2 linked regions of the Homo sapiens genome follow. The protein of the gene in region 1 interacts with the protein of each later gene in a biochemical or structural test. Each region holds a gene or a part of one and is shown on either strand. Other genes may lie near its edges.

The links.
Region 2: the proteins of M6PR (region 1) and PLIN3 form a complex in vitro, tested with the Homo sapiens proteins (2 studies listed by BioGRID).

The regions. Positions count from the first base shown.
Region 1 is NC_000012.12:8,943,024-8,946,771, reverse strand, and holds part of M6PR (cation-dependent mannose-6-phosphate receptor isoform 1 precursor), read left to right. Parts: exon of another isoform or gene 1-56; intron 57-366; 5' UTR 367-367; coding exon 368-543; intron 544-1,187; coding exon 1,188-1,354; intron 1,355-2,861; coding exon 2,862-2,971; intron 2,972-3,187; exon of another isoform or gene 3,188-3,218; coding exon of another isoform or gene 3,219-3,236; coding exon 3,237-3,367; intron 3,368-3,748. UniProt on the Homo sapiens protein: Transport of phosphorylated lysosomal enzymes from the Golgi complex and the cell surface to lysosomes.
Region 2 is NC_000019.10:4,865,599-4,869,346, forward strand, and holds the start of PLIN3 (perilipin-3), read right to left. Parts: upstream 2,070-3,748; 5' UTR 2,011-2,069; intron 1-2,010. UniProt on the Homo sapiens protein: Structural component of lipid droplets, which is required for the formation and maintenance of lipid storage droplets. Required for the transport of mannose 6-phosphate receptors (MPR) from endosomes to the trans-Golgi network.

The sequences.
Region 1 (3,748 bases):
CTGTAGAGGCCAAAGAGGTTTCAGAAGACTACATCAAGCCATCAAACAGTAAAGAGGCAAGGATGGCTCCACCCAAGCTGTCATCATTCTTTTTTAAGTTCTTTCATTTCCCTCTTCCCAACTTTGTAGTTTGTTCTGAAAGACTCACCTATACATTAGACTACAAGTTACATATAAATGAATTTTCTGCTGCAGATGCTCTTGTTACAGAGATATTAAAATGTACTATGTGTTGCATATGCCAGAGAATCTTGTACTTTCTGGATAATTAAAATACCATCGATTTATTACACATTCATACGCTTTATCTCTTTCCTCTCTCTCCTGATCCTACCTGCCCTCCCCAACACACACTCTCTCCCAAAGGATGTTCCCTTTCTACAGCTGCTGGAGGACTGGACTGCTACTACTACTCCTGGCTGTGGCAGTGAGAGAATCCTGGCAGACAGAAGAAAAAACTTGCGACTTGGTAGGAGAAAAGGGTAAAGAGTCAGAGAAAGAGTTGGCTCTAGTGAAGAGGCTGAAACCACTGTTTAATAAAAGGTAAATGAGAAGAACCTTAAAGAGCTTGAGAAAATATTTATGTTAAAGTCTTTTCTTCTTACTGATTTTATTTCATAATGTGCTCTCTTTTATGACATAGAGCAAATTCTCAGCCCAGTTTTTAGTTGCTGTGTGCAGTTTTCTCATCTTTCACAGAAGTGTAGCTATTTCCAAGACTGGATCCAAGAGACCAGCTTGTAGAAATTTAAGGATTATTTGACACCTACATATAATAGGACTTTAGAAATATCAGATAAACATATTTAGGCCGACACATGTCATTATAAGTGTCAGGAACCTTCAGATATATAAATCTGAAGTTGGTCCCTAAGAAACGAGACTATCCGATGAACATGGGCCCTTATTCATTGGAACATGGTTACTAACAGGCATTCTAAAAATAACTAGAATATTGAGCTATCAAGATAGCTCAAGTGTGTTTTAATAATTCATCATCAGCAATAAGGATGGTCTGTCAAGGTTATGAATATCTTAAAATTAAACAAATATTCACTCAGCCATGACCTCAAATAAATAAATCGAGCATGTTGTTTGTTTTGTTTTAATTAAGGAAAGGGATGCTGTTATTCCTGAGGCTGATAGCTAGTAACTCTCCTCTTCTTTCTTCCCACTTCTCTTTACAGCTTTGAGAGCACTGTGGGCCAGGGTTCAGACACATACATCTACATCTTCAGGGTGTGCCGGGAAGCTGGCAACCACACTTCTGGGGCAGGCCTGGTGCAAATCAACAAAAGTAATGGGAAGGAGACAGTGGTAGGGAGACTCAACGAGACTCACATCTTCAACGGAAGTAAGAAAACTCCCCTTCCTACCATCGATTGACTAACTGATCCCAAGTCAATCCCTCTGACAATCCTGTATGTCTTGGCCGTTTCTAGTGTCTTCAGCATATCATACGTGTGGTTCGGCACACCTGAGACTGTAATATACCACAGGATGCCTAATTCCACAGCTCCTCTGTAAGCCACAGCTCAGGACAGTTGTGCATTAAAATCAGTGAAAAACTTATGCAAAATGAAGACTCTAGCCAGAATTGTTTTGTTTTGTTTTGAGACGGAGTCTCTCTCTGTCACCCAGCCTGGAGTGCAGTGGCACAATCTCGGCTCACTGCAACCTCAGCCTCTTGGGTTCAAGCGATTCTCCAGCCTCAGCCTCCTGAGTAGCTGGGACTACAGGTGTGTGCCATCATGCCCAGCTAATTTTTGTATTTTTAGCAGAGACAGGGTTTCACAATGTTGGCCATGATGGTCTTGATCTTTGACCTCGTGATCTGCCCACCTTGGCCTCCCAAGGTGCTGGGATTACAGGCATGAACCACCGCGCCCAGCCAACTCTAGCCAGAATTCTGTAGCCTAGAGTCCTTTTATTCACCCAAATACTTTTAATGAGTTTCACACTAGACTTACAAATACCAACCACCACCACCACTTTTCATCAAATTAATCAAAGTTTACCAGTTAAATTTTAAGAGCTCAAACTTTTTTTTGCAAACTACTCAGTCTGCAAAACTTTACCCACTGATTTTTGTGCTATGGTGGTGATATTTCTTAAAAGTCATATTGCTGGAGAGGACCATGTAAGCACCTATGGTCCAATTCCCTCCCATACAGATAAATAAGTTATACAAGGTAGCTATTTACTCCTGGTAAATAATACAATAAAAAAGTAACAAAAGGGTTTGGGGCTGGGGATCATGTGACCAGGTTCTCCTCCTGTTTCCTAATCCTGTGACTGGAAAGTCGTATCACCTTTTGACCTTGTTTTCTCATATGCAAAACTAGGAGCAGAATCTTTACCTTATTCACCTCACAATTACTGAATCAAATGATATTTTGCAAAAGAACTGAACACAGTAAATACTAAAGAAGAGATATGCATTCCAATCTTAGATATCCACTCTGAATTTATCTGGGGCTAAGTTGAAATCTTAGATGGGCTTACCCCTGCTGCTCAGCAATTGTATGGAACCTCTTTTTTTGCTTTTAGAAGGTATTCAGAAAATGAATCAGTGTTAAGGTATGGATCATAATTGGTTTTGCATTGTCAGTTGCCTACCTTTAATGTTAAAAATTAAGATTATTCTTAAATGAATATCTGATTCTTGTCTTAAGGGAACACAAGTCTTTGTAAGCAAACAAGTTTAGCTTGGCATTTCTGGTATACCAAGTTCGTACTGATGAGGGTTGTTTAGTTATAACCAATTGCAATGAATTACGCAATTCCACTCTGCCATACCACCCAGATCTGCCTCTGCTTTTCCCCCACCCCATAGCTCCATTTTCCTTGTCCCTCCTCAGGTAATTGGATCATGCTGATCTATAAAGGGGGTGATGAATATGACAACCACTGTGGCAAGGAGCAGCGTCGTGCAGTGGTGATGATCTCCTGCAATCGACACACCCTAGCGGTGAGGCACCCTGTGTTGTATAAGCCGAGGGAGGAGACTGAAAGGACTGACCTGAGGTTGGGGAGAATATCCAGAGGGGACACGATACGTTGGGATGGACATTAGAAAACTAGGAGCTCAGTTTCTCTCTGTGTCAGACACGCATCTTCCATGGAAAATAGGCTGCTGAACCAGGAAGGAGCAGATGTTTTTTGGGTTTTTTATTTTGTTGGACAGGAGTCAAAACACTTAACCACCTGAATGTGTTATGCCATCTCATCATCAGGACAATTTTAACCCTGTGTCTGAGGAGCGTGGCAAAGTCCAAGATTGTTTCTACCTCTTTGAGATGGATAGCAGCCTGGCCTGTTCACCAGAGATCTCCCACCTCAGTGTGGGTTCCATCTTACTTGTCACGTGAGTATGCCTTCCTTTATCAGAACAGACCTTCCTTCCTTTTGTTTTTAAGGTCAGTAACTATATGGTGGTACATAAGCACAAATTGTATGTGTACATTATGCTGTAATTGATGGGGATAACTTTTTAAATCCTCTGGCTATAAAATAATTCTGCCAGGACACAGGGCTCACGCCTGTAATCCCAGCACTTTGGGAAGCCAAGGCAGATGGATCACCTAAGGTCAGGAGTTTGAGACCAACCTGACCAACATGATGAAACTCCGTCTCTACTAAAAATACAAAATTAGCCAGCACAGTGGCACATGCCTGTAATCCCAGCTACTTGGGAGGCTGAGGCAGTAGAATCACTTGAACCTGGGAGGTGGAGGTTGCAGTGAGC
Region 2 (3,748 bases), on another chromosome or scaffold:
CCAGAGGAATGAGGCCCCACCTCCTGGTGGCCTTGCTTCGATGTCCCCTAAGCAGAACCCAGCAAAATGATGATGTTTTGCAAGCACTAGATCTGGAGTCCAGATTGGGTTCTTTCCATTTTTTTTTTTTTGTTTTTTTTTTTGAGACGGAGTCTCGCCCTGTCGCCCACGCTGGAGTGCAGTGGCGCGATCTCAGCTCACTGCAAGCTCTGCCTCCCCGGTTCACGCCATTCTCCTGCCTCAGCCTCCCGAGTAGCTGGGACCACAGGCGCCCGCCACCACGCCTGGCTAATTGTTTGTATTTTTAGTAGAGATGGGATTTCACCATGTTAGCCAGGATCGTCTCGATCTCCTGACCTCATGATCCGCCCGCCTCGGCCTCCGAAAATGCTGGGATTACAGGCGTGAGCCACCATGCCCGGCCTTTTTTTTTTTTTGAGACAGAGTCTTGCTCTGTCGCCCAGGCTGGAATGCAGTGGCGTGATCTCAGTTCAGTGTAACCTCCATCTCCCAGGTTCAAGCGATTCTCCTGCCTCAGCCTCCAGAGTATCTGGGAATACAGGTGCCCGCCACCACGTCCGGCTAATTTTTATATTTTTAGTAGAGGTGGGGTTTCACCATGTTGGCCAGGCTGTTCTCCAACTCCTGACCTCAAATGATCCGCCCACCTCAGCCTCCCAAAGTGCTGGGATTATAGGCGTGAGTCATCCTGCCCAGCCCAGAATGGGTTCTAATCCCAGCTTGGCAACTCACTAGGAATAGGAGTTTGGGAAGGCAGCATCCCCTAGGAGTCTTGCTTGCCACATCTGTGAAATGTGTATAAGTGTTTCACAAGAGCCTGGAGTCCCTGTGGACTGGAGGAGACGCTGCTCCGGGGAAGCTCAGATCCGTGCCCGGCACATAGTAAGTGCTCCATAAACTATCTCACCGCACTCTGGCTTCCACGGACAAAGGGGTAAAGCCAGCCAGGAACCAGCTTCCTGCTAGGTACAAAAGTCCCCCAACTGGGAAGTCAGGTGAGAAGACATACCTACCTCCCAGTGATCATTGCCTAAATCTGTGCTTCTCCTCACCTCCTTTGGAGCCTGAGCTCACCTGGGCAGGGGGCCAGGTAGGCAGGCATCAAACTCCTGGCCTCGACCGATTCTCAAGTCCCACTTAGGACTCAGGCAGCTTCCTCCCGTCCCCTCTGTCCACCATGACTTCCTGGAACTGGTTTAAGCAAGGGTGGCCATGGCAGATGTCAACACCCTATGAAACCCCTGGGGGTCAGTGACCTGCCTTGCCGCTGGCTCCAGAAGGGGAGCTCCAGGCCAGACCCAGCCATCCAGCAACTTCAGAGCATGCTAAGACTGGACTTCCAAAATTCCAAGGGCCCCAGGTCCCACTGCCAGGCCTAGCCGGGACAAGAACCCCAAAGCAGTTAACGGATAGGCCTTCCTACTTTTAAGCCACCTCGTCGCCACGCCCACCCGAGGGAAGTGGGCAGGCTTTGCCCAAGACCTCCCCAGAATCAGTTGGGGGCGCCAGGAGCTGGGGCAACCCCCACCCCCACCCGTGGCAAAACCATCTGTAGGGGAGGGGGCTTTGCGGTGGCGGGGGGTGTCTCTGAAAACCCCAGAAGGGAGGGCGGAGATTCTGCCCGCAGGAGGAAACTTGCCTGCAAATGGCGTTTCCAAAAGCAAACTGTTCAAAATTTAGAGAAAACCTGGTGGGCGGGGGGCGGTATTTAGCCCACCCCCTTCAATATCACCCCTTCTACGGGGCTCTTTCGCCCCTCAAAAGTCCCAGGAAGTGAGAAGAGGGTTTCAAAGTCTGAGCTTCGTTGCAGAAGTTGGATTTTTCTGGGGGGAGGGGTGACCAGCCTGGGCTGAAGACCCCTCCCCAGGCCGCAGAGTCCAGCAAATCCCACCCCGAGAAAGGCCCTCCCCGACCCCTCCGGCCCCTGGGGTGCCCCAGGACTCCATGGACACCGCCCCCCAGCTCAACTGAGACGCCCCCGCCACTCACCGCGGTCAACCGGACGTCCCAGGAACAGCTGCCGCGACTTCAAAACCAGCTTGGAAACCGTCCGGGCCGAGGCGGGGGTGGCTTTTACTGCGTGGTAGGTTGGGGGCGCACTGGAGTGACGGGCGAGGGGACCAATCAGGTTGAGGGATTGCCCGCGCCAGGCCCGCCCCTCTCCTCCCTGCCCCGCCTCCACTAGGCCCCGCCCCTCGCCAAGTCATGAAGTCCGGGAAGGACTCCACGCCCTGCCCCTGAAGGGGAGGGAGCACTCTTGGACCACGCCTGTCCCAGCCACGGGACCCCCGCTCCGCAGCTGGGGACCCTGTGAAGTTGGCCCTGGGAGGTGAGTGCGATCGGGGGCGCCGCACAGGTGCTGGGATTCCCCAGGTCGCCCATTTCCCCTATGGCCAAACTGAGGCTGCGAGAACCCTGGGAGAGTTGCAGGGTGACCCTCGCCAGCGCGTCAGGGGCCACGCCCTCCACCATGGGCTCCGACTCAGCTATATGTACACACACACACACACACACACACACACACTTTTTTTTTTTTTTTGAGACACAGTCTCGCTCTGTCGCTAAGGCTGGAGTGCAGTGACGCGACCTTGGCTCACTGCAGCCTCCACCTCCTGGATTCAAGCGATTCTCCTGCCTCAGCCTCCTGAGTAGCTGGGATTACAGACACGTGCCACCACGCCCGGCTAATTTTTTGTATTTTTAGCAGAGACGGGGTTTCACCATGTTGGTCTTGAACTCCTGACCTCAAGTGATCTGCCCGCTTGGGCCTCCCAAATTGCTGGGATCACAGGTATGAGCCACCGCACCCGGCCCAACCCAGCTATATGAGTGACTTGAACCACCACGGGAACTTGTCCAGCCTCCGGCCTGATCTGCCCAACATCAGACCACTTCATCCTCCCAGCACTGTATTGTCTTTTTAATCATCCCTATTTTGCAGAGAAGGAAACTGAGGCCTGGAGAGGGTCAGCCAGGGGCAATGGAGGGGTCAGGCTCCAGGCTCTGTGACTGCTGGATCAACCTTTTCCTGAAGCTGCCCCCACTTGGATTTTACCCCGCCCCTCTCCACCTCCCAAATTATTTATCCTCTTGGTCTATAAACCAAGGTCTCAATCTCAGATGGTCCAGGGAGGAGGTGAATATTTCTGCTGAGGAGGTGGCAGTGATGCCCTGCTTAGAGGGGCAGGGGAGAGCAGTGCCCTATGGGAGACCCACCTGGAGAGTCACAGATCCACAGGAAGTTCAAGCTGTAGACATGTCCTGCCTGTTAGGGAACAATTGGACCAAATGAAACCCAACTGGGGCTTTGTCCAGCCCAGGGGCCACCAGTTTGCCACCTCTGCCAAATTATTTGAATAGAATGAAGCTTCTGGTAGCTTTAGAAAGAACATGGGAAAAATTGGGTGTCTGTGACTGCATTTTTTTGGGGGGGTGAGTGGGGACAGGGTCTATGCTAGCACTGTCCAATAGAACTTTCTGCAATTCTAGAATTGTGTGCCATCCAACATTGTAGCCAAAAGCACCACGTGGCTAATGCACAGTGAGAAGCTGAATGTTTAAATTTTTTTTTTTTTTTTGAGGCAGAGTCTCGCTCTGTCTCCCAGGCTGGAGTGCAATGGCGCGATCTCGACTCACTACAACCTCCACCTCCCGGGTTCAAGCGGTTCTCCTGCCTCAGCCTCCCAAGTAGCTGGGATTACAGGCGCGCGCCACCACACCCAGCTAA